7 linked regions of the Homo sapiens genome follow. The protein of the gene in region 1 purifies or fractionates together with the protein of each later gene. This does not show direct contact. Each region holds a gene or a part of one and is shown in the gene's direction. Other genes may lie near its edges.

Region 1 (3,967 bases):
GGCTTGCCTGTAATCCCAGCACTTTGGTCCGCCATTGCACTCCGGCCTGGGCAACAGAGTGAGACTCGGTCTCAAGAAAAAAAAAAGAAAAAAAATTAAATTAAATTAAATTAAGTCAAGGGTGGGAACTCTGTGGAAATGAAGCTTCTGAAGCTGTCCGGGAAGAGAAGCGGCCCCTGGTCAGGCCGAGAACCCCACAGCAGCAGCCCCGTCTTCCCCCAGCTCACTGCTAGGCGAGGCTGCTCCTGCGCCTCCGGGCTTCCCAAAAATCCAGACGCAAACTGCGCGGCCTCTGCGTTCGCTTCCCGGTTCAAGTTACCCAGTAAAGAGGAACCTCAAACGCTCTGCCCTCGGGGCCCAGCGTCCAAACCCAGCCTGGGCAGGGCCGGCTCCTCAGGGGTCCTCGGCCGCCTGGGGGCCACAGGCGTCTCCCTGGTCCGTATCCAGAGCCTGCTTCTCAGGAGAACGCTGGCTCTGGGGCCAGTCCTAACCCACGAGGGCTCCTCTCGACCACATCTGCAAAGGCCCTATTTCCAAATAAGGTCGCATTCCTGGGTCCTGGGCGGACACGAACCTGGGGCCCGCGCATCCCAGCGTCGTCGCCGCCGCCAACCTCCGGCACCGCGCCGACCCGCGCGGAGTCTCCCCTCCATCATACGCGAGGATTTCCCTTTGGAGTCTCGCTCTGTCGCCCAGGCTGGAGTGCAATGGCGCCATTTCGGCTCACTGCAACCTCCGCCTCCGTGGTTCAAGCGATTCTCCTGCCTCAGCCTCCGAGTAGCTGGGATTACAGGCGCGTGCCCCCACGCTCAGCTAATTTTTGTAGGGGGGTGGGTGGGTTTCACCAGGTTGGCCAGGCTGGTCTCGAACTCCTGACTTCAGGTGATCCACCCGTCTCGGCCTCCCAAAGTGCTGGGATTACAGGCGTGAGCCACCGCGCCCGGCCGGATTTCCCTTTTAAATGTGAAGGCACCTCCATGCTCATCGCGAGCCTGACGTCCACGCGGCGCCCACCCGCGGGCGCGCCTGCCCCGGGCGCCACCTGCCCGGCTGCCCCCGCACCCGGCTCCGCGCAGCTCTGCACGCTGTCGCCCTCCGGCCAGCAGGGGGCGCCGCCCGCCCGCCCCGCGCAGCCGCCTCTTCCCCGGAAGTCCCGCCTCGGCCGGAAGTCGTGCGTCCACGCGTTTCGAAAGATGGCGGCGTCCAGGAGCGCGGGAGAGGCCGGCCCGGGCGGCTCCCAGGGACGCGTGGTCCGCATGAAGCGCAGAGGCGGGCGCGGGCCGCGCCGCGGTCCTGCTGGCGGTGGGGAGAAGGCCCTGAAGAGGCTGAAGCTAGCGGTGGAGGAGTTCGTGCACGCGACTTCGGAAGGCGAGGCTCCCGGGGGTTGCGAGGGGCGCGGCGCCCCGGTGAGCTTTCGCCCGGGAGGGAGAAAAAGCCGTAAGGAACTGAGGAAGGAGAAGCGGCACCTGCGGAAAGCACGCCGGCTGCAGAGGACGGCGGGCCCCGAACAGGGTCCCGGCCTGGGAGGCCGAAGCGGAGCCGAAGAAGCCAGCGGTCACCGGCAGGACACGGAGGAGCGCGCCCGCCCAGCCCCTAGTCGGGACCCCTCGCCTCCCAGGAAGCCGCGGCCGTCCCGGGTCAAGGCCAAGGCCACGGCCGCCACCGCAAAGACCAGACCCTCCGCAGCCGCCACCGCCGCTGCCCGGAAACGGGCGCTTTTAGCGGCGAACGAGGAGGAGGACCGAGAGATCCGAAAGCTGGAGCGTTGCCTCGGTTTGAACAAGCGCAAAAAGAAGGACGGCAGCAGCTCCGTGCCGCTGAGCTTTGCACGCGACGGTCTTGACTATATTCTGGGAGCCCTGGAGTCTGGGAAAAATAGCGGCTTGTACGACAGCAGTGGTGAGGAGGAGGAAGATGCCGGACAGACACTCCCCGAAAGTGACTTAGAGAGTGACTCCCAGGACGAAAGTGAGGAGGAGGAGGAGGGAGACGTAGAAAAGGAAAAGAAGGCGCAGGAAGCAGAAGCGCAGAGCGAGGACGACGACGAGGATACAGAAGAGGAACAGGGGGAAGAAAAGGAAAAGGGAGCGCAGGAGAAAAGGAGGGGGAAGAGAGTCCGTTTTGCAGAAGATGAAGAAAAGAGTGAAAATTCCTCGGAGGACGGTGACATAACGGATAAGGTATCGTGTGAACACTCTCTAGGCCCTCTGGGATTTCCTTCAAAATAACGGGACAGGGAATGGGGCGTGAGGCAGAAATGACACAGACTTGGTGTCTTGATAATGGTTTCAGCTGAATGTGAGTAAATCGAGTACGTTACTCTATTCGGTCTTCTTTCATGTTTTTAAATTTTCATAATGTAAAGTTTAGGAGAAAAGCAATATAGAGACATTTTTATCCCGGGGACTTAAGGGCCATTTCCACAGTGCAGCATCTTCATTCTGTGTTTACCAGCCCAGGTCTCTAAACCTGTTAACCCTACCTCATCTGTTAAGGCCTCTTTCGAGTATCCGAGGACATCTGCCGTGCCCGACTTTTAGAGTGAATTTTCTAAAACTCGAAGCTAATTTACAGCACTCCCTTAGATAAAGTCCAACATTGAATTAAAGATAAAGGCTGAGGCGGGGCAGATCATTTGAGGTCAGGTGTTTGAGACCAGCCTGGCTAACGTGGTGAAACCCCGTCATTACTAAAAATACAAAAAACAGCCGGGCGTGGTGGCAGGCGCCTGTAATCCCAGCTACTTGGGAAGCTGAGGCTTGAACCAGGGAGGCAGAGGTTGCACTGAGCCGAGATCGCGCTACTGCACTCTAGCCTGGGCGAGAGAGCCAGACTCTGTTTCAAAGAAAAAAAAAAGTTCAGAATCTAGGACGTAGCAATCAAGGCATTCATGGGCTGTCATCTTGCATATTTTATCTCAGCGTTCCTTTGCATGTAGCTCATGGTTGGAGGCAGCTGTGTGGAATTGCCTGCATTTCCTTCTCCCCACATCGCACTAGTTCTATGTATGTAAATATTCAGCTTCTATGTATACAAATATTCTTTATTGAACCAGGTTTAAACTACCTAGCAGTGAGGATCGTGCCTTGCAAATGTTTGTGTCCTTAATGATTTGCAAACACCACCACCCCCCTTGATAATTTAGGAAATAGCAGTGAGTTGGTTTTGATTTTTTTTTTTTGAGACTGAGTCTTGCACTGTCGTCTAGGCTGGAGTAGAGTGGTGCAGTCTCCGCCCACTGCAAGCTCCGCCTCCCAGGTTCATGCCATTCTCCTGCCTCATCTCCCAAGTAGCTGGGACTACAGGCGCCCACCACCATGCCCGGCTAATTTTTTGTATTTTCAGTAGAGATGGGGTTTCACTGTGTTAGCCAGGATGGTCTTGATCTCCTGACCTCGTGATCCGCCCGCCTCAGCGTCCCAAAGTGCTGGGATTACCGACATGAGCCACCGTGCCCGGCCGGTTTTGATTTTTATCATATAAACTTAGATATTACTTTTAAACAAGTTTGAAATTGTTTTTAGGACACTTTCCCTCCAAAATTAGCGGTTTGTTTAATTTAGGTTCTTGTATGCTACTGTGCCTGCAGTAAGTTAAGGCCGAGCAAAAGCGCAGTAGATAGGGCTCTGTTGGAGTTGAGCAGATACCAGAGGTGCACAGCTGGGTCTGAAGAGCTACACAGGGGAAAACGAGATGGTGAAATGTATTATTAATAGCATTAATGGGAATAGTGACAGGCACAGCCTGGTGAGTGGAATGTTTACCCATATACTAAGCACTCAATAAATCTGATGTATTTAAGCAGCAATGATCAGTAGCAGCTTCCACCAGTTCTTGGAAGTTTAATATTTAAATACACATATGGCAAAGAAAAAACACAGGATTTGGTCAGTGTAAATTTTTTGTAATTTATTTCTCTTTTCAAGCAGAGTCTTTGTGGAAGTGGTGAAAAGTACATCCCACCTCA
Region 2 (2,508 bases), on another chromosome or scaffold:
TGCAGGTTTGTCACAGCAAATGTAAAAGCGGATTCAAGAAGAATGAACTTAAAAACTGTGGAGCAAATTTTTGTTGAAAATATATAAAGTCAGAAAGAAAAAAGATGTAAATGTTGGAAGAAGCAAATTCTATTACTAATTCAAATGAAACTAAATGTCAAACACAGTACTTGTGTCAACTATTTAGCATCCCAGATTTTGTAACATATTTTGCATAAATTATTTGCTCTTCAAAAATTTTTGTCATTTTAAATCTAATTTTAATCTTTATGTTTTCCATTTTCTAATTTCCTTGCAATGTATTATTCTTATTCTTAATTCTCTACATTGAAATTTGGCTTTACGTCGTTAGCAAATTTATAAAGGGTTATAAAGCTATGATTCGTGAGTCTAAAATCAAATGCAAAATTTTATTTATTATGTAAACCAAAATGTCATTTGCAAGTTTTCTCATTAGAAGTTATCCTTGCAAAGATAGAAAAAGAAGAATTAATTTGTGTAAACAAGCACAAATTAACATATTTGTTAATAAATAGGTTTATCTACTAATAAACCTATTTCTAGACACATTCAAATTGATAATGATTTTTAGAAATGTTAAGGTTCCAAGGAGTCTTACAAGTGTATGCCCTTGATTTCCTGAAGGAAACCACTTTCTTTCTTAAATATTTTAAATTCATCTAAAGTGAACGACTATAAATAGAAGCAATCACCTTGGAACCACAGCTCTGTGCAACCAAGGCCCTAAGCTACACCAAATACGCCAGGAATTTTGAGACTTCTCATCTTTAAATTCAACCAAAAGGGTCTTTAGCAAGAAAAAAAATGCTGGATGATGATTATTATTATTTTTGCTTAATTTTTATTTTGCCATGTCCAGGTTAAGGGTGAGGGTGGTGACAATCTGAAAGACTGTGTCTGGAATCTTTATCACATATTTCCAATTTATTTCAGTTTTTGTCTAAAACTTGCATTTCTAACCTATCTTTTCCAGCATTTGATAATCTCCCATTTCCTCCTTCTAACCCCCATTCCTATGTCTCCCTTCCTGTCTATTCCTCACCGATTTAAACAACTGAAATGTTTACTTATGTTTGGAGCTGAAAAATGGAAAGTTTCACCCAGCATGGTTACAATAACAGCCAGCAGCTGCAGCAAACCATAAAGTTATGCAGTGTTTTGAAGTTCACAAACCACATTTTACATAAATTATCTCATTTTGTCTTCATAACAACCCTATGAAGACACATTAATCTCAAAGAAATTGAGCTCTTACCCCAAAACACAGGGCCAATAATTGGTGCAGTTGAATTATTCTCAAAATTTACAGGCTGTTAGTCTTTCCACTGTACTAAAAGATTTCTTTCTCTGATCAGAGCAAGAGAACTTCCAGAGATAATGGATAGAATGAAAGAATATATATCTATATATATTTGACATGTTGTTTAGTAATCCCTATTTTAATTCAATTCTCCATCTGTAAAATATTAGCTAACTGAATTATTTCTGTGTTCTACTCTGGGCTCTCACATTAAAACTCTGTTCAAAAAGTTTAACAAGTCACATATTTCTTAACATACAAGTTCGTTTGTGAATGTGCAGAACAGATGCTCCCAAGATGTGGATGCATGTAGGCCCCGAGGTACAGACATAAAATCAAGGAAGCACAAGGAAAGAAACCCCAAGGAAAAAACCAAAGACCTTCTAAATTGAGACTGCATAATTATAAAAGAGATCCATAGTACAGGGTTGAACACATGTTCAACACTTTGTCAACTGAACACATGTTCAATTCGGAGCTAATTGGGAAGACTTACATAAAATTCTTTTTCTTTTTTTCTTTTGGCAAGATTTCTTCTTAAACCATGAAATTTTTTTTACTTGTAATAATAGAGAACAATTTTCTCCATTTTCTTATAAGAAAAATAAAATATAATTTATCCAAATTGATGTATAGAACCTAAAACATATGCTAACTTGCAAATAATATATTTTACTGATCAACTCATTTTTGTCAAGTCTCTATTTCTAGTCCCTCCTGAATGTTTTGGAAAACCACAAAACTATACAGATTAATACAAATTACATTTTTACAAGGAAAGAAAACATTCCCAAATTTAACACTCAAGACTAATCACATAATCCTATTTTGAACTCAGATCTCTCTGACTCCATTGACTGCTTAGAAATAGTAAAATCTTTTTGAAAAAAAAATTTTCTAAAATAAAACTATTGTATATGAGAGTAAAAATATATTTGTTTTTGATTGTTCCTGACTAGAAGACAGATATCATCTCTCAAACTAAACACTCAAAATAAGAAATTGAATTCATGAAAACCAATACCTGATGTGAATTGTTGTTATTCAACTGTATAAAAGAAATGCAGATGTTCTGGGTATGTCAGAGCATGCGAAAGAAGAAGTTATGGGACTGGCAGGTATTTGGCCTCAGGAGAAAAGGTGAAAATTTTCCAGAATAGATATAATAACATCTTATATTGGCACAG
Region 3 (3,323 bases), on another chromosome or scaffold:
GCAGGTAGGCCCGGCCGGCACCCCGGGGACGCCGATGCAGACGCGGAGCAGGATGGAGGGGCCGTGGGCAGCCTCCGCGCCTCCAACGCTCTCTCCTCCCAGCCTGGAGCCTGAGGACGCGGCGCCCACCCCGCCCGGGCCCTCCTCGGAGGGCGGCCCCGCGGAGGCCGAGGTGGACGGCGCGACCCCGACAGAGGGCGACGGCGACGGGGACGGTGAGGGCGAGGGCGAGGGCGAGGCGGTGCTCATGGAGGAGGACCTGATCCAGCAGAGCCTGGACGACTACGACGCCGGCAGGTACAGCCCGCGGCTGCTCACGGCGCACGAGCTGCCACTGGACGCGCACGTGCTGGAACCGGATGAGGACCTGCAGCGCCTGCAGCTCTCGCGCCAGCAGCTCCAGGTCACGGGTAAGGGCGGGGCTGGAGGCCAGGGGGTGGGGCCAGTGGGGCGAGCTGGGGGCGGGGCTTCTCCAGCCTCATTTCCCGGCCGAAGCCGCTGGCGTCAGTGGGGAGCTGCTTGCTGCTTCTCCCCCGGGTCTCTGAGCGTGCATTCCGTCACCTGCACGCGCACTGGGGCGTTCCTTCATTCATCCTGGGCTTGCTGGCCCACTGGCCTTGGGGCCACAGGTGGTGGAAGCTTTTACCGGCCGCTGTCCGAGCACTCCCTGGGCAGCCTCCGTCCTAAGACAGAGGAGAAAATACTGGCTTCAGAAAACCCCTGGGCCAGGACCCCCTCGGGGGTCATGCGTGGGGCTGGATCCCGCAGCCAGGCCCTAACCACCAGGTTCTCCTGTCGCTCGGCGGGGAAGCGCGCTGCGCTTGGTCCCCACCCAGGAGGACGATAGACATGAAGACCAAGGTCCGGGGCTCGGGGCGGATGGTGTGGGTCTCCGGGTCGCCCAGGCCCTGTCCCCTCCCCATGTGCCTTAGCTCGCCCCAGCCTGTTTTCCTTTTGCGGGAGGCACCAGCGGCCGCCCCTGCCAGAGAGGCTAGGAGGGAGGCCAGGACCCAGGGGGAGGCCGAGGCCCGGGTGAACGCCGTCCCGCCCGCAGGAGACGCCAGCGAGAGCGCCGAGGACATCTTCTTCCGGCGGGCCAAGGAGGGCATGGGCCAGGACGAGGCGCAGTTCAGCGTGGAGATGCCACTCACCGGCAAGGCCTACCTGTGGGCCGACAAGTACCGGCCACGCAAGCCGCGCTTCTTCAACCGCGTGCACACGGGCTTCGAGTGGAACAAGTACAACCAGACGCACTACGACTTTGACAACCCACCGCCCAAGATCGTGCAGGGATACAAGTTCAACATCTTCTACCCCGACCTCATCGACAAGCGCTCCACGCCCGAGTACTTCCTGGAGGCCTGCGCCGACAACAAGGATTTCGCCATCCTGCGCTTCCACGCGGGGCCGCCCTACGAGGACATCGCTTTCAAGATCGTCAACCGCGAGTGGGAATACTCGCACCGCCACGGCTTCCGCTGCCAGTTTGCCAACGGCATCTTCCAGCTGTGGTTTCACTTCAAGCGCTACCGCTATCGGCGGTGACGGCCCTGGGGAACGGCAGGCAGGTGTCCTCGGGGGCACAGTAAAGGGGCTTCGGTGAAGCTGGTGGTCACTCCGGGGCCGCTGTCTGGGCTGCAGGGCCGCGGGTTCACGTCCCACCTCAGGCCGCATCTTTCTTTCGCCAGGCCTCAGTTTCCTCCTATATAAAAGGGGGGTCACCATTGAGCCTGCCATGGTGAGCTGAGGAGACACTGGGACAGGCTGGCCTAGGGTCCTGATGCAACGGAGGGGGCGCTAGGGGCATCTTTCGAGCACGAGGGTGGCCAGCAGCCGCCAGCTGACCTCACCGTCCAGGCGGACACTCTCCACCGCCCCTCAGCCAGGCTGGGTGGGGCCCACAGGGCCTGCCCCAAGTGGCGGCCACACAGGGTGTTGTGGAGATGGGCCAGAGGGGCCTGGGCTTGGCGGTGCCAGGCTCGTGAGAAGCAGGAAACTCAAGGCCAGCCCTGCCACATCACGGGGCACCCACTGGGCGTGAGGCAGAGCCCGCGGCTGTGGGGCAGCTCCAGCCCTGCCCACAGGCCACCCTCGCCCGCACAGGCAGCACTGAGGCCGGGACCCTGCTGGCGCCCGATCCGCCACTGCAGAAGAGACCCTCTGTGGACACCCACACTCTGCAGGGACTGGCCCCCAACTCACCCCGTGCTGGCTGGTGGGGTCCATTTCCCCGCAGCGGGTATGGAGGATGCGTCGAGGTCCCTGTCTCTGTCAAGGTCGTGGGAACCAAAAGTCACTGAGCCGTCCTCCCCCCACCTCTGAGCACAGGGCCTGGAGGGCAGGGGCTCCCCGAAGGCTGGGGGTTGGAGAAGGGTGAGGGGCTTCCCCCAGGGATCCCCCCACCTGGCCTGCTCACGGGGCCTTGGAGCATGAGACCAGTGACCCCGAGTTTTGCCCATATCAGGACAGTGGCTCCTTCTCACTCCCCTTTCTCAGGCCAGGAGGGCCGAGGGCCACACGGGTGCCACAGCCCAGGTCGGAGTGGCCCAGCCGGCAGGCTTGTTCTTCAGCATCCGACGGGAACATCTCCAACAGAAGCAAAACGGAAAGTGCCTCCCGGACCCCCAGAGGGCCACCCAACCTCACCAGTCACCAGCCCCAGACCACCCACAGCCCCTCCCAGACACCCCGCCTCATCTGGAAATAGTTCCGTTTGTTTCTCTAAAAAGACTTGTAGGTGGGAAAAAAAATCTTTTGTTCTCATGGAATTGGCCTATTGGCAAGATCGCATGTTTTTTTAATAAACGTTGTATTTTAGAATAATCTTAGGTTTGCAGAAATGCAGAGAGTGTAACGTGTCCGACGCCCCACACCCGCTGCCCTAGTTGCTGCTGGCATTTGTGACACAGCGCATTTGTCCCAAGGGAAGAGCCTGGGAAACAACACGGCACCCAACTGGGGCCCGGTGGTCCCTTGGGAGCTGTGTTAGTGCCCGGATCTGTCTTTGCCCCCCACCCCTCTGCCTTGCCTCCCACAGTGGGGGTGACAGTCCATTTCCCAGACGACAGGAGGGAGGGTACAAGGGTGGACACAGCTGCTGGCCTGGGCCCAGGCTCTCATGGGGGCAGCGCTTGGCCATGCCTGGGGGCATTCGTGGTGGTCCCACCTTGGGGCTGCTCCTGGCGTGGAGTGAGTGGAGGCCAGGGATGCTGCCCAATGTGCTTCAGTGCCCAGGATGAGCCTCCCCAAATGTCCTCACTGCAGTAGGCAGAGGTGCAAGGCAGATCCTGCACTCCCCTGGGGCACTGGTCACCTCCCAGCCC
Region 4 (3,500 bases), on another chromosome or scaffold:
TGTATTAGTGTTTTAAATTCAAGATCCTAGATATTTTAGACTTACATATAATAAAATTACATCAATATTGTTGGGTATAACATTTTTATGTAATCAAAATGGAAGTGAAATTTAATTGCTTTCAATTAAAATTCCTTTCTAGATAATCTCTAAATTTCTTCATCAATACAATTTAGATATTGTAGTTCCCAATTCATAGGCTTTGGGGGTGGATTAAATTATATAACACATTAAAAACCTTTAGCACAGTGTCTAGAATTTAGTAAGCTCTCAGTGAATTGAACCTGTTTATTATTTCTGTTATTACCATTTTAATTCTCTTAAAAGTAAAAGTATGTTTAGTCCTTCTGTATATAGAATATTTTGTTTTTAGCATGATTAAGGTAACAGAGGGGCATGATGCTGGCTTCTATATTCCAGAAGATCCAAATGAAAACTTTTCTGGTGTTAAATGTGTATTTATTATCTAGGAAACTTTTTAAAAGAACATAAATCATCAGTATCACCAACTAACTATTTTTGAAAACTCAGTGTTTTTACCACTGTACTTAGAATATATAAAAATTTAAGTATGGAAAACATACTTAAATAAAAATTAACTTTACTAAAATTGTTATTGTTTAACTGGCTTACAATCTTATGAATTTGGTTATGAGAAGAATGAAATAAAAGAAACTAATTCATTAAAGTATAGGTTGATAGAGGTCAGAAGACATGTACACTATTAAAGAGACTTACTAGTTCTGTGACTCATCAAAGTTTCCTAACTCCTCTCTTGGTATTTTGGGGCTAGTCCTGTGGAGTGAGTAAACAATACCCAAATGTTTATTTAGATTGTGTAGAATCAGTCAGAACAAAATGGGGCCTTCTTTAGGAAGGTTGGTTCCAGGATCTGCCCCTCTTACCTTCAGGAGGTGTACAGGGTAGGCAGATTGCTTCCATCAATATGCTCTGGATCCTTTGCTTGTCAGCTCTCTGTGGTTCTCTAATAACCTTTCTGCCCACCCACCTCCCCACCACCAGCTGGCTGTGATCCAGCACTTCCATGTGTTCAGTTGATTGGCACACAATTTTAATTAAATAACAAGTATTAAAACATACTAGAATAAAAAATAATAGAGCTGAGGAATGTTATTAGTATCATTTCTGGATTTTAGTTGGACTGTACCAAGGTTTAAAATGATCTCTTCAAAGAATCAGTTATTTTTCCTTCAGTTTAGTTCCTGTAATTTTTTTCAATCTGTGACTTTTCTTTAGCCCCTCTGCCTCCCATTTGGAAACTTTATTAATCCTTTTTTTAGTCCGTTTTTCCCAGGAATTTTTATGAAATTCCTTTTCTGTATTCGTACCTTCTTCCTGCCCAAAGCTTGCACTTCTTTCTCTACTCTTTTCTCTGTCCCTGATACTGCTTTACGTACTATCTTTCAACAATTCCTTCCCCTTCAGAAGCTTACAGATCACTGTCAAAATTATCCTTAATGCCCCCATCAGACCCTCAGAATGTGGATTTGAGTTTACATATAAATTCTTATTAACTTAAAATGTTCAAGTACTGTGAAGAATCCTAAGATACATTTTTTTCCATTATACTTTTAGACAAGCAAATCTGGATCTTCCTCTGTGGTATCGCCCCTCTTCCCAATTTTTTTCATCACTCTCAGGATCGAGAGGGAATATATAACTGATGAATATTTTCATTTACACCATTGGAATATTATTTAAAAATTAATGTCTATATTTTAACCTAGTGGTTGTCCGCTGTGCTCAGCTCCATTATTGCTGATATCATTTGAAAATATAATCTGCTTATTCAGTTGTTTGGATCAAAAAATGCAAACATTTTTAATGGTCATAGCAGATCTAAATTCTGATTTCTGAATTAGTTTTCATTTTTTGATGAAATCCTCAGAAATTTGGGTATGTTTTGATTAACTTATTAACTAGTGTAGGTGTTTGGACTTGATTTTTAAAAACTCATGTAATTACTTCAGAATATAATTAAATAGTTCTAAAGGTCTAAACAATTTGTTTTTATTTATTTAACCATCATAAGTGCCTCTATTCTATCCATTGTTGCCATTCTTTCATTTAAAATCTTTTCTTTTTTTTGAGACAGAGTCTCGCTCTGTCGCCCAGGCTGGAGTGCAGTGGTGCAATCTCAGCTCACTGCAAACTCCGCCTCCTGGGTTCACGCCATTCTCCTGCCTCAGCCTCCCAAGTAGCTGGGACTACAGGCCCCCGCCACCATGCCCGGCTAATTTTTTGTTATTTTTAGCAGAGACAGGGTTTCACCATGTTAGCCAAGATGGTCTCGATCTCCTGACCTCGTGATCTGCCCACCTCGGCCTCCCAAAGTGCTGGGATTACAGGCGTGAGCCACCGCGTCAGGCCTTAAAATCTGAAATTATAAATCTTATTTTGATAGTGTCTCAAAAATGTTGACTTTGATTTGATTGTTAATTATCTTCTATCTTTAAACGCTCCTTAAATAAGAAATAATACTTGTAGAATATGCTAGCTCATTAGAATTACAGTATTTATAAAATGATTTTATGAAGAACTTGATAACCGTCTAAGATTAAACTGAACATTTTTGTTTATTTTATCTTTGTTTGTTAAAACAGAGTCTAGCCCTGTTGCCCAGGCTGGAATGCAGTGAATCAATCTTGGCTCACTGCAGCCTCTGCCTCCCTGGATCAAGCAATTCTCCTGCCCCAGCCTCCTGAGTAGCTGGAACTACAGGTGTGCCCCGCCACACCTGGCTAATTTTTTGTATTTTTAGTAGAGACAGGGTTTTGCCATGTTGGCCAGGCTGGTCTCAAACTCCTGACCTCAAGTGATCTGTCCGCCTCAGCCTCCCAGAAGTGCTGGGATTACAGGCATGAGCCACTGCACTTGGCCTATTTTATCTTATTTGTAATGCATGAGAAAATATCCTTTGTGCCATTGGTTCAGCATTTAATAAAGTACTTAGCATGAATAATTTTATTTTTTATGTTGGACTATGGGAATATATAATAAAGTATGAGTATAGTTTTCTTTGTATGGTCTTTTGTGTGAGACTATGTCCTTATATTTCTTAAGCATATAGCTAAAAATGGACACACATGATATTTTTATGCTCACATCACAATGTAAAATTCATTCCAACTACAAAGGCAAACTGATGTGGAACAGTGTGGAGGGTGAACAAAGGGGACTAAAATCATGTATAGCTTGTATGGAGTATATAGTTGTGGTATAATTTGTGAGCTGCAAGGTAGCTGAACATTTCTATTTTGGTGTCAGTCCCTTGGGAAGGAAGGGGTTTCATAATGGAGAGTGATCTGTACTCTTAGTAAGAGTGATTGACACTGAATGATTAAATAGAAGAGAATATAAATACCACTCCTCCCCCTTTTAAGGCTAAGCACATAGACACTAAATGCAAATCTTTTCAATGTGGAAGAAAGTCTGGCCTAATGATAGCACATATCAGGAAAGCCAAGGGGGTGAATTAA
Region 5 (3,500 bases), on another chromosome or scaffold:
TTTTTTTTTTTTTTTTGAGACAGAGTTTTGCTCTTGTTGCCCAGGCTGGAGTGTAGTGGTGCAGTCTCGGCCTTGCCGCAACCTCCACCTCCCGGGTTCAAGCTATTCTCCTGCCTCAGCCCCCGGAGTAGCTGGGATTACAGGCATGCGCCACCATGCCCAGCTAATTTTTTGTATTTTTAGTAGAGACGGGGTTTCTCCATGTTGGTCAGGCTGGTCTCGAACTCCCGACCTCAGGTGATCCGCCCGCCTCGGCCTCCCAAAGCATTGGGATTATAGGCATGAGCCACCGTGTCTGGCCATTTTACTTTCTTAATAAGCCCTTGCCATGTAGAATCTGGCTTTACCTAAATCTATGCAAACCGTGAGGTGCATCTTGAAAGCAGCAGTTAGGGTCAAACAGGTAGGGTCCAGGATCATCTGAAACAGTCTTGGATAATGAGGTTGGAGGATATGTGTTTTCTTTATATACCTATCCTCGTAGAATCTCCTTTGCTTGAGGTGATGTGAAATGGAGTTAAGGAAAGCAAAGCAAGAGAATGTGGCTGAGTTAGCTGGGGTTCTGCATCCCCTGAGTTTTCCTTTTTTTTTTTTTTTGAGACGGAGTCTCACTCTGTCGCCCAGACTGGAATGCAGTGGCACGATCTCCGCTCACTGCTAGCCCCGCCTCCCGGGTTCACGCCATTCTCCTGCCTCAGCCTCCCGAGCAGCTGGGACTACAGGCGCCCGCCACCAAGCCTGGCTAATTTTTTGTATTTTTAGTAGAGATGGGGTTTCACCATGTTAGCCAGGATGGTCTCTATCTCCTGACTTCGTGATCCACCTGCCTTGGCCTCCCAAAGTGCTGGGATTACAAGCATGAGCCATCGTGCCTGGCTTTTTTTTTTTTAGAGACAAGCTCTCGCTCTGTCACTTAGGCTGGCATGCAGTGGTGCAAACATAACTGACTGAAACCTTGAACTCCTTGGCTTAAGAGATCCTTGAACTCTTGAACCACTGTGCCTGGTTTATCTTTTTCTTTTTTTTTTTGAGATGGAGTCTCACTGTGTCTCCCAGGCTGGAGTGCAGTGGTGCAATCTTGGCTCACTGCAAGCCCCGCCTCCCAGGTTCACACCGTTCTCCTGCCTCAGCCTCCTGAGTAGCTGGGACTACAGGCTCCCGCCACCACGCCTGGTTAATTTTTTGTATTTTTAGTAGAGACAGGGTTTCACCATGTTAGCCAGGATGGTCTTGATCTCCTGACCTCGTGATCCACCCGCCTCAGCATCCCAAAGTGCTGGGATTACAGGCGTGAGCCACCGTGCCTGGCCTTTTTCTTTTTTTGAGACAGAGGCTCACTCTGTAGCCCAGGGTGGAGAGCAGTGGTGCCATCATAGCACACCGCAGCCTCAACCTTGGCTTAAGCAATCCTTCCAACTCAGCCTCTCAGCTAGGACTGCAGGTGTGTGCCACCACATTGGGCTAATTTTTAAATTTTTTGTAGAGATGGGGTCTTGCTATGTTGCCCAGGCTGGTCGCAAACTCGTGGACTCAAGTGATCCTCTTGCTTTGGCTTCCCAAAGTGTTGAGACAACCGGCATGAGCCACCAAGTCCAGCGCTGAAACTTTGCTTTCTAATTGTTACTACTAGTGCCATGTTTGACACTAACTGTTGCTAACTGAAGTAATAGGTAAAAGTTTAGTTTTTAAGTTCTAACTTTATTTATTTGTTTTTTGAGACAGAGTCTCACTCTGCTGCCCAGGCTGGAGTGCAGTGGCGTGATTTCAGCTCACTGCAACCTCTGCCTCCCGGGTTCAAATGATTCTCATGCCTTAGCCTCCCAAGTAGCTGGGATTACAGGCGTGTGGCACCACACCTGGCTAATGTTTGTATTTCTAGTAAAGATGGGGCTTCACCATGTTGGCCAGGCTGGTCTCGAACTTCTGGCCTCATGTGATCTGCCTGCCTTGGCCTCCCAAAGTGCTGGGATTACAGGGAGCCACCATGCCTGGCCTTAAATTGTAACTAAGGTAAGGGTCACTGTCCGTAAGCAGGATTTAAGGGTAACTGGTAGGAGTGAACCTAGCCTGTTTCTGTGACTGTTCTGTTTACATTGCTGCCATTTCACATGGTTTAGATTGACTCCCAGGTTTTAGGTGGTCAGGTTTGGAGAGAATGACATCTCATTTATACAGTGAGGTTGACAGACTATGGGCGTGAAGTGGTTGCTTTCAAAATTTGGTCTCTGATTTATTAACTTACATTTTCTTCTTTCTGAGGCATTGTTTAACCTTGAATTTATTTAGCCTGCTATAAAAAGCTGGTGATTGTACTTACCAAGAAATAATTTTTTCTAAGTTTAAAAAAAATTACTCAGATAATATTACAGGTCTGCAGACAGGTACTTTAGTATAGTTATATCAGAATCTTAGAGGGTGAGGCCTGAGCATAGGAATTCCGTAAAAGCTCATCTGTGTGATTCCTATGAACTGGCAAGATTGAGAATCATTGTAATAAGATAAAAGTGGGGCCAGACCCCATGGCTCATGCTTATAATCCCAGCACTTTGGGAGGCTGAGGTGGGAAGATCACCTGAGCCTGGAGGATCGCCTGAGCCCAGGAGTTTGAGACCAGCCTGGGCAACATAGTGAGACCCCCGTCTGCACAAAAAAATTTAAAAATTAGGTCGGGCCTGATGGCTCACGCCTGTAATCCCAGCACTTTGGGAGGCTGAGGCTGGTGGATCGCTTGAGCTCAGGAGTTTGAGACCCATCTGGGCAACATGGCAAAACCCCGTCTATATCAAAAATATAAATTAAGCCAAGAATGGTGTATATGCCTGGAGTCCCAGCTACTTGGGGGGCTGAGGCAGGAGGATTGCTTGAACCCAGGAGTTGGAGGCTGCAGTAAGCCGAGATCATGCCACTGCACTCCAGCCTGGGTGACAAAAGTAAGATCCTGTCTCAAAATAAATTTAAAAATTAGCTGGGTGTGGTGGTGCACACCTGCAGTCCTAGCTGGGAGGCTGAGTTGGAAAGATGCTAAGCTGAGGTTGAGGCTGCAGTGTGCTATGATGGCACCACTGCTTTCCACCCTGGGGGAATAAAACATGCTGGGCATGGTGGCTCATGCCTGTAATCCCAGTACTTTGGGAGGCCGAGGTGAGTGGATCACTTGAGGTCAGGAGGTCGAGACCAGCCTGGCCAATGTGGCGAAACTCCATCTCTACTAAAAATACAGAATTAGCCAGGCGTGGTGGCTCATGCCTGTAATCCTAGCTACTTGGGAGGCCAAGGCAGGAGAATTGCTGGAACCCGGGAGGTAGAGGTTGCAGTGAGCCGAGATTGCGCCACTGCACTCCAGCCTGGGCAATAGAGTGAGACTGTTAAAAACAAAAAAAAGATAAACCAGGCATGGTGGTTCATGCCTTTAATCCTAACAGTTTGGAAGGCCGAGGCAGGATTGCTTGAGTCCAGGAGTTGGAAACCAATCAGGGTAACAAAGTGAGACCCCAACTCTA
Region 6 (4,299 bases), on another chromosome or scaffold:
CTCATCCTCTACCATTGATATTTGGGTGGGTTTTGTGTTTCTATATTAAACTACACCACTATGAACAAATCGTATGTGTACATTTATATTGATATACTTATTTTCAGCAACCACAATAATCCTGCCTCTTTTGGCGTGCATTTGCATTTTAATAGGTATTAAGCCTTAAGCCAAAGGCACACATTTCTAAGATAGAAATTCAAGTATCAGTTAGTGGAAAAGGAATATATTTGGGGGACATATTATTCCTTTCTGTTCCTCAAGAAATCTTAGTAATGAGACAATTGCCTGCAACTGCCTACTCATACATCTGAGTCAAATTATATGTGTTATTTATATGATAAGCCCCCTTAATTATTAATATTTTGGCAAACAATCTAAAACCAAGGCTCTTTCTAAAAATATCTATTTGCGATGATCCACAGCAATTCTAAATGCTTATGTGAAATTCATTTAAATTTCTCACGTCTGCTAAATTAGGTTAGCAGTCTTACCTAGCAGTCTCTCCCTGCATTACATTGATTCATTCTCCTGGATTATTCTAAAAATTGTTATCTGCCAGAGGATTATGGAATAAACTAGTAAAAATGAGGAAAAAATGGAGGTGATGCACTATGTTTTTCAACGTCTGTCCAAGCTTAAAGAAAGTGTGTAGGTCCTTTTAAATTATATATATATCAGGTGTTTTATCATGTCATCCCTTCTAATTCTGAGGATATTCTGCACATTTTAGAGTAATACCATGATAATGCAGAACTCAAGTGCTTTTGTTTTTCTGGAATTGCACATTACAATAAGTGATTTGCATAAGAAATGATTTGCATTCTAAATGTAGATGATTTAAGGATAATGGCTGCACTAAGAATGTCAAGCTAGAATTCTACTCTTATCTCTTAGTTACCTTCACATTTGGTAATATACTATAGATTATAACTGCTTTAAGACTAAAAATGTAAACTTTTAGAAAGTAGTGTTCTAGACTGTTCAATAAAATGCACAAAATTGTAAAATGCATTTTATGTCAAAGGTTGAGAATTTGAAAATCAGACTTAAACATGTTAAATGTAACCTGTTTAAAATTGATTAAAATTGCATTTTTCCCTTGAATAAGATTTCTTCCATAAGCGGTTAGTTTAAAACAATATAAATAAATAAAACAAACCAACAGCAACAGTGAATAAAACTTAAATTTCAACAATTTCTGTCATTTGCAAAAGATGATAAATCTCCAGTGACGTGCAGAAAAAACAAATTTCAGGTCATGGCAACTTTGAAAAACTATTAATTGCATAACATTTAGAGAAGCAGTATTTTACTTAATATTTGCTATAACTGAAAGGAACTCCTTGGCATAAACCTTTTAAATTATTGGAGAGAAAAAAATAGTGATTCTGTGCCTTTAATTTCCCTTTCTGAGCAAGGGAAGGCTGCACACCACTGACAGGCTCACTTGTTCCCGTCTTTAATGTGCAATCTGTTTTCTCCAGCGGAGGGCACTCAGTGTATCACAAACTCAAGCATTAGCACCAACAAGCTCTGAGCATCATCAGTCTCTGGAAAGCCTTCTGAATTAGACAAGGGCTGCCTCCCAGCACAGCTACAAAACACTTTAAACCTGACCAGCTAAATGGATAAACCTAGCCTGCATAGCTTTTAAACTGGGGTCTCATACAGCACAGGAGGCCTACTTGCTTCAAGAACTGAAAATCCAGAGGATGAATTGCTTTATCTGGGAATGGCAAAAGCCAGCACAATAAGGAATGCCAGGTATTCTGAAGATTTTCTTTTTTTCCTCTCTTTTTACAGAGAAGTTGGTTACCTCCGAGATGGGCTGTAGCTCTTTTGCACAGATTGCCAATTACTGCTGATGGGTCTCTGGTGAATTACACAATGGTCCTCAGAGCCTAGAGGCCCTCCCCCATCCCTATCCCCCCAACGGCTTCCTTTTCCCTGCCCCCACAACCATCCCACCCTGTGCTGATTTTTTATATATATATATATATGTATATATATATATGTATTTTTTTTTTTTTTTTTTGCCTGTCCTCTCGGGGAAGTTTGTATGGGGCTACTAGCTCACATGCGGGATCAGAATGGTGTGAATGACAGCCGCACTGTGTCATGAAGGTGGTGGTGGTTTCCGCACAAGAGACCAAATAAGAAGAAAGCTGAGAGAGGGGGGAAACGTTTTTGGATGACAAAGGATGGGTAAGTGAACTTTTGTTGTTTCCTTCTGAGCAAAGCTGATCCTCTTGGCTTCCTATCCTCAGTCGTGGCATTAGCAGATAAAAGACGGGGAAACAGGCAAAGAGCAGCAGCCTTTGAGTTTGCCAGTTGATTCACTATAGTTGCTATTATATTTTTAGATCATTTTCCTTTTTGCAGTGTTTTTTTTTTAATCTATAAATGCACAACACGAACTTAAACAGACTCTAGAGAAATATCTTTAAGACTGTTTCTACTGTCTGCGTATCCACAGCTTGGGAATTCAGAAGGAGATAAATACTGTGTTTGCTTCTATTTCTTGATAATATTAACGAGGCTTGTGTTTCTGGTAGCTGTCAGGATGACTATTAACACTTTGCTGCGTGTATGTAGGGGTGGGGTCCTTACTTTATCAGAGGTTGCACAAGGGCTTGTTTTATCTTTGAAGCTGGATCCTGAACACAGCTTCCGAATTTCCAGCAGTCATTTGCCAGTCTTATTTTTTCGAGTGTGACTGGCTTTTTTCCCCCCCTTTCTCCTGTCTGGGAGAGCTGGAATGTATTTCAATGAGTCTGTAGCTGGCAAGAGGACAGAGAGCAAGATCGGGTTTTAAATTAAAAAGAAAAAAAAGAAAAACTTAACTGTTTGAGAAGAAGGATGGGTTTTAGATTAGGGATTTGGTTGATTGCCTCTTGGTTAAAAATTTAAAAATTTAAGAAAAAAAAAGAAACTGCAACACATGGTAGTTGTTTCTTTTTTTTTCTCTCCATTAAGAAATAATAAATCTACTGTTGACGGAGGAAAGAAGTCCCTTAACATGCAATGACTTGGAAATGCAGTGTAAGTGCCAATAGATTGTAACTTTGCAGGCTTTCTGAAGTTAATGGAGATAGGGGAGAAAAAAGTCAGTGAGAAATGTGAAGAGATCAGGGTGATGTAGAGAAAAATAGTAGTTGGCTGCTTCTTTCCTTGTTTATCCTTCGAATTTGCAAAAACAACTCTAAAATAATGGCAAAGTGATACTACACAATATTATTTTGCTTTTTAGGCAAATAATACGAATTTTGATAGTCTTAACTTTGGAGTGTTCTCTGTTATGAGTATTTAGATGTCTTAGCTCCTGTATCGTTGGGCAGGGAGCCACAGTATGCAATAATCTATGCTTATTAACAACTTGAGAGCACCTCGTACCGTTATTAGTCTTCATCCAATGCTTCATTGGCTGCCTATACTAGTCTCAATGCTGTTTTTTCAGAGCTCACATATTGCGATCCTATTATGCAATAAGTACACAATTTCAGGCAGGGCAAACTTGGGTTACCTTGACAGCTTACTGAAGCTCTTTTGCCAAATCACAGCCTGTTTGCTCAACTGGGAAACACGTACAGGTACCAGGTTTACTAAGTCACATTTTTGCCCTTACCAGAGCACATAGTACACTTCCTTTTGGTACTGTTGTTCAATACAGTGGTTAGCCAAATATTATTGTTACTAAAATGTCAGCATTCAGTGGTGAGAAAGGCTCTGTGCTTTTCAATGTTGAAATAAGTAGGAACTCCTGAAACTCAAAAAGGCTTTTCTTAATTCTATGGGACTGTGGTGATTTGAAGATCAAGGAAGAAAAAGTGAAACCTAAGCAGCAAACATGCAACACTGAAGAAAATAATGCTCGAAATGTTAATGCATTTTCCTTAAATCAACTGTCCCATTCCTACACTAGAGGAAATGCCCCTGTTGTTGGTAAACCGACGGTGATTTATTTTAATAGCTTCACAATGTGCATCTGTCTTTTTTTTAATATCGTAGGTTTCCATTTAATTACGCAGCTGAAAGGCATGAGTGTGGTGCTGGTGCTACTTCCTACACTGCTGCTTGTTATGCTCACGGGTGCTCAGAGAGCTTGCCCAAAGAACTGCAGATGTGATGGCAAAATTGTGTACTGTGAGTCTCATGCTTTCGCAGATATCCCTGAGAACATTTCTGGAGGGTCACAAGGCTTATCATTAAGGTTCAACAGCATTCAGAAGCTCAAATCCAATCAGTTTGCCGGCCTTAACCAGCTTATATGGCTTTATCTTGACCATAATTACATTA
Region 7 (3,982 bases), on another chromosome or scaffold:
CAGGCTGGAGTGCAATGGTGTGATCTCGGCTCACTGCAACTTCCGCCTCCCGGGTTCAAGCGATTCTCCTGCCTTGGCCTCCTGAGTAGCTGGGATTACAGGCGCATGCCACCACGCCCGGCTACTTTTTGTATTTTTAGTAGAGACAGGGTTTCACCATGTTTGTCAGGCTGGTCTTGAACTCCTGACCTCTTGTTCCGCCCGCCTCGGCCTCCCAAAGTGTTGGCATTGCAGGCGTGAGCCACCGCGCCCGGCCAGGAATGACTTCTTAAACCAGGATTTGATTTTGGTTGAACTTTGCTTTCAGAACTAGAACTACCTGCTATCCAAGACTTGTTAACCACGTTTTCATGGGCAAATTACAAAACCCTTTCAACCCCAGTTTCCTCTTCTATAAACTAGTGGTAATATTATTATCTCCAGAATTAATCTTAGGAGTAAATGAAATTATGTAAAGGCATTTAGTCTCATAACCGGGCTCCTAGAAAGCACTCAGGAATGTTAGTTCTCTATCCATTTCCCCTGTTTATCTTTGTGTTTGATGAATTATAGGATGATATGAAATGATCTGAAATGAACTGTAATATAAACATCAATAAAACACCAATAAAAAATTTTATTCTCACATCTGGATGCTATACTAGGCCTTCACCTCCTCCAAAAGTTACAGTTTTATTAATATTCATTTATTATTTATTATTATAGTCAAAGACCCAGAGAAGCATTCCAGGAACAAAGCAGCAGGTAAGATTTTTCTGGGAAAAGACAGAGATTTTGAGGGACCCAGGATTTGGGGGTCATTTAAGCAGCAGTGGATGTCAGTCTTCAAGCTTTGCCCATTTACTCTTGGTCCCTTTTGGTTCAGGAAAGGAAGAACAACAAGCACGAAACCATTCACTGAGACCTTTGCGGGTGGGGGAGGAGGGATGTAAACAAAAGCCAACGCTCTCTTTAGTTCACAATGGCTCGCGACCCCAAGACTTCCAAGCTCTTTGGTGAGGGCCAGCAGGTCTGTTCTCCAGGAGTGCCCTGGGTCTGGACTTCATTTCCCAGAGTCCCTTAGTGCCCTAATGTATTCAGTGCTCAGAGTGCCTGTATGTGTGTGAGTGTGAGAGAATGTGTGCGTGCGTGTGTGTGTGCGCGCGTGTGTGTGTCTCCGAGTCCCTGGGAGAGTGGAGGCTCATTCACTGATTAGATCCAGCGCTGAGAGGCAGCACTGCTCCTTCTCTCACGCCAACTGAGTCTCTTGATCTGTACATGCAATCCCAGGCAGCTCGCGAACACAAACCCGGGGCCAGCCGCCTACTGCTGCTGCTGCTGCTGCCGCTGCCGCCGCCGCCGCCGCCGCTGCCTCCGCCGGCTCTGCGAACCCGGGACTTTTCATGCACCACACTCTCCGCCTGCTTCCCTCCGTGTCCTGAAAAGTGCGACCGTTCTCCCAAGGAATTTCCACGGCAAGTATGGAGATCAGAAAGGGGTGTGGACGTGTGTGCGTACCCAAGAGGGGTGGGTGCGAGGGCGGCCGGCTTGTTCAGGAACCTGGCTAACTTTCCGGGTCCGTTTCCTAGGGATTCGGGCGGTTCCCTCTGGACGGGGGCAGGGACTGGGACTCGGACTGGCGCGTCTTGGATCATCGCGACGGAGCCTCTCGGCATCGGCGCCCTGCGCGCTCCGTGCGCTGCCTCGCTCAAACTTTCCGTCTTGAGTTTTCCTTAATGTGTTTTATTTGGGGAGGGGGGGAGGTGCAAGGGGGAGGGACCAGACGCGGGAATTGGACAAGTTGGGAGGGTGAGGGCACTGCAAGGGAAGGGAGCAGGACTTCTTTTCTCCGTCTCTTAATAAGCCCCATTCCCACTTTGTTCGGGTCGATATCGAGAATGCCTTCTCGCCGGGCTCTCTGGTGCACCCCCCGGTGATTTCCGGGCTCCCCTATGTACCCCGCGTTGATTTCCGGCGAGGCCAGGGCTGGGTGGTACTCAGTGGGGAGCCCGAGGCGGCGGGCGGATGGAGAAGGGGCGAGCCGAATGAGAAACTACCCCGACAGCCTCCACCCCACACACAGCCGGCTCCGCGGGATACCCGGGGAGTGGCTGTTTAGCCCTGGACCCCGGGTGCTCGGCTGACTTTTTCCTAGCGGGGGCGGGTGTGAAGGGTGTGGAGGGAGGGAGGTGGGGTAGGATGGATGGATCCTCTGCGGGCAGGAAGGAGGCAGGTGCTAGCATAGAGGCGGACCGTTCTAAACGCCACCGGTAAACTCCCCACTCCTCTGGGCTGGACCGGCCTGGCCGTAGAGTAGCCCGACACGTGGGATCTCCCGGGATTTTCGGGGTCGGGACCCCCTCTCCCAGCGGTTCTACTGAGCAAGGCGGGAGGACGATCGTGGAGACGAGGGCTACTTGACTACTCTACTTGTAGTTTTATTTTTATCTTAGACCTGCCTTAAACTGAGTAACAATTTCTCTTCTGACTTAAGAACAAAACTTTTCAGTGAGCACGCCGGTCGCTGCGGTCCTGCGGCCACTGCCGCCGCGCTTGTCAGCCCGGGCCGAGCGACCTTCTCTGCCCGGAACCCAGCCCCGCCACCGCACTCCGGAGCCTCCGGCCTCCCCCACCCCACCCCCGCCCCCCAACCCGGGGCTTTTCAGGGCTCGGCCTGGGCGTTTCGCCTTTGTGCTTTGTAAGAGAAAGCCTTTTCTTCCAGGGCACAACAAACTTGGGCGGAGAGCTTCCGTGTGGCCCCCCGGGCGAGGCCGCCCACGGTGGTGAGGCCATCCGAGGGGATGCCCGGTTCATCCCCCAGTCCAGGAGCCTCTCCGAGAGCTCGCGGCCCAGGTCGACCCCAGCTGGCGAGGGCGCGCAGGAGTCCCGAAGTAGCGGGGACTAGGGCAGCCAGGAGGCAGGGGGAAAGCTCTCGCTTCCCGTTAAGCACACCCTGCATTCTCGGGTCGTGGATGCAGCTCCAGCGGAGAGCCCGTGTTCCGGCCCTGAGCCAGGCGCGCGTCGCACTGGGTGGGTGCATGGGGCCCGGGCCATAGGTGTGGGGGCACAGCCCTACCTGGCCGGCCCGGGTCGTCTGGGGTCTGCGCCGGCCCACTGGCCCGGGAGCCGCCGAGGGGGAGAGCACCGCACTCGCTGCCCACGACGCCCAGCAGCCACATCTTGCCTCTCGCCTCCGCTCCGGACTCGGCTTGAGGGGCAAAGGGGAGAGAAAGGAAAAATAAAGAAAAAAAAGGGCGGCAGTGAGGAAGCAGCGAGGGGACTGGGGGGAGCAGAGTGGGCAGGGGGGCTTTGCCTTGCCTGGCCTCCTCTTTCCGTCTCGCGGGCTCTTCCTGCAAAGGGGAATGAGCAGAGGGGGGAAAGGCAGAAAGAGCGTCGAGGAAGAGCGGTGCTGGCGTCTTCCGTGCCGATCCCTCCTGGCCCGCAGAGACCCGGCAAAAGTGGCGTGAGTTCGCTTGCTGCGCTTCGAGGCAAGGCTGGGGAAGGCCGAGGACGGGGCGGCGCCGCGTCGCGCCGCTGGTGGCCGACAGGGCCGGGGCCGGGCGCGGAGCGAGCGGGGACACACACCTGTTCTGCGAGCCGCGCGGTGTGCGGCGGCCGGACGGCCGCGGTGCGGGCCGCAGAACCCTCCCTCCCGCACTGCGCATCCGCAGTCCAGGAGCTGGAAGGGCCCGGCAGCCCCGCGCCGGTCCGTATTTGCAGGAGAAGCGGGAGTGGAGGAGTCCGCGGCTGCCCGCTGAAGCGGTGGTGCGCGCGGCGGCGGGACCCGGGTGACCCCCGGGGCGGGGCTGCTCGGGGGCTGGAGGTCCTTGGACTTTGGTCGAAGGCTGGCAGCTCTGAGCCCCTGCCCCGCGGGCCCCGCGCGGCTGCGGACCAGGGGCCCTTGCACGTGTCGGTTCTTCCTGGACTGGCGCTTTGGTTGCCCAAAGTTGGGCGCAGATTGTTTCGTGCGGAGGTTGTTGGGACCCAGAGTATTCTATATACA

The links.
Region 2: the proteins of NOM1 (region 1) and LRRTM3 purify together in Homo sapiens (co-immunoprecipitation; one large-scale study listed by IntAct). This does not show direct contact.
Region 3: the proteins of NOM1 (region 1) and CACTIN purify together in Homo sapiens (affinity purification with mass spectrometry; one large-scale study listed by BioGRID and IntAct). This does not show direct contact.
Region 4: the proteins of NOM1 (region 1) and LIN28B purify together in Homo sapiens (co-immunoprecipitation; one large-scale study listed by IntAct). This does not show direct contact.
Region 5: the proteins of NOM1 (region 1) and RNF10 purify together in Homo sapiens (co-immunoprecipitation; one large-scale study listed by IntAct). This does not show direct contact.
Region 6: the proteins of NOM1 (region 1) and LRRTM4 purify together in Homo sapiens (co-immunoprecipitation; one large-scale study listed by IntAct). This does not show direct contact.
Region 7: the proteins of NOM1 (region 1) and RNF220 purify together in Homo sapiens (affinity purification with mass spectrometry; one large-scale study listed by BioGRID and IntAct). This does not show direct contact.

What each region holds. Positions count from the first base shown.
Region 1 is NC_000007.14:156,948,545-156,952,511, forward strand, and holds the start of NOM1 (nucleolar MIF4G domain-containing protein 1), read left to right. Parts: upstream 1-1,167; 5' UTR 1,168-1,193; coding exon 1,194-2,180; intron 2,181-3,926; coding exon of another isoform or gene 3,927-3,929; coding exon 3,930-3,967. UniProt on the Homo sapiens protein: Plays a role in targeting PPP1CA to the nucleolus.
Region 2 is NC_000010.11:67,099,544-67,102,051, forward strand, and holds the end of LRRTM3 (leucine-rich repeat transmembrane neuronal protein 3 precursor), read left to right. Parts: 3' UTR 1-2,008; downstream 2,009-2,508. UniProt on the Homo sapiens protein: Exhibits a limited synaptogenic activity in vitro, restricted to excitatory presynaptic differentiation. May play a role in the development and maintenance of the vertebrate nervous system.
Region 3 is NC_000019.10:3,610,145-3,613,467, reverse strand, and holds the end of CACTIN (splicing factor Cactin), read left to right. Parts: coding exon 1-4; exon of another isoform or gene 5-102; coding exon 103-410; exon of another isoform or gene 411-683; intron 684-1,054; coding exon 1,055-1,545; 3' UTR 1,546-2,823; downstream 2,824-3,323. UniProt on the Homo sapiens protein: Plays a role in pre-mRNA splicing by facilitating excision of a subset of introns. Required for the splicing of CDCA5/Sororin, a regulator of sister chromatid cohesion. Involved in the regulation of innate immune response.
Region 4 is NC_000006.12:105,072,107-105,075,606, forward strand, and holds part of LIN28B (protein lin-28 homolog B), read left to right. Parts: intron 1-3,500. UniProt on the Homo sapiens protein: Suppressor of microRNA (miRNA) biogenesis, including that of let-7 and possibly of miR107, miR-143 and miR-200c.
Region 5 is NC_000012.12:120,540,856-120,544,355, forward strand, and holds part of RNF10 (E3 ubiquitin-protein ligase RNF10), read left to right. Parts: intron 1-3,500. UniProt on the Homo sapiens protein: E3 ubiquitin-protein ligase that catalyzes monoubiquitination of 40S ribosomal proteins RPS2/us5 and RPS3/us3 in response to ribosome stalling.
Region 6 is NC_000002.12:77,519,577-77,523,875, reverse strand, and holds the start of LRRTM4 (leucine-rich repeat transmembrane neuronal protein 4 isoform a precursor), read left to right. Parts: upstream 1-1,499; 5' UTR 1,500-1,760; coding exon of another isoform or gene 1,761-1,767; intron 1,768-2,057; 5' UTR 2,058-2,204; coding exon 2,205-2,208; intron 2,209-4,011; coding exon 4,012-4,299. UniProt on the Homo sapiens protein: May play a role in the development and maintenance of the vertebrate nervous system. Exhibits strong synaptogenic activity, restricted to excitatory presynaptic differentiation.
Region 7 is NC_000001.11:44,404,073-44,408,054, forward strand, and holds the start of RNF220 (E3 ubiquitin-protein ligase RNF220), read left to right. Parts: upstream 1-1,182; 5' UTR 1,183-1,458; intron 1,459-2,719; exon of another isoform or gene 2,720-3,009; intron 3,010-3,362; exon of another isoform or gene 3,363-3,442; intron 3,443-3,982. UniProt on the Homo sapiens protein: E3 ubiquitin-protein ligase that promotes the ubiquitination and proteasomal degradation of SIN3B. Independently of its E3 ligase activity, acts as a CTNNB1 stabilizer through USP7-mediated deubiquitination of CTNNB1 promoting Wnt signaling.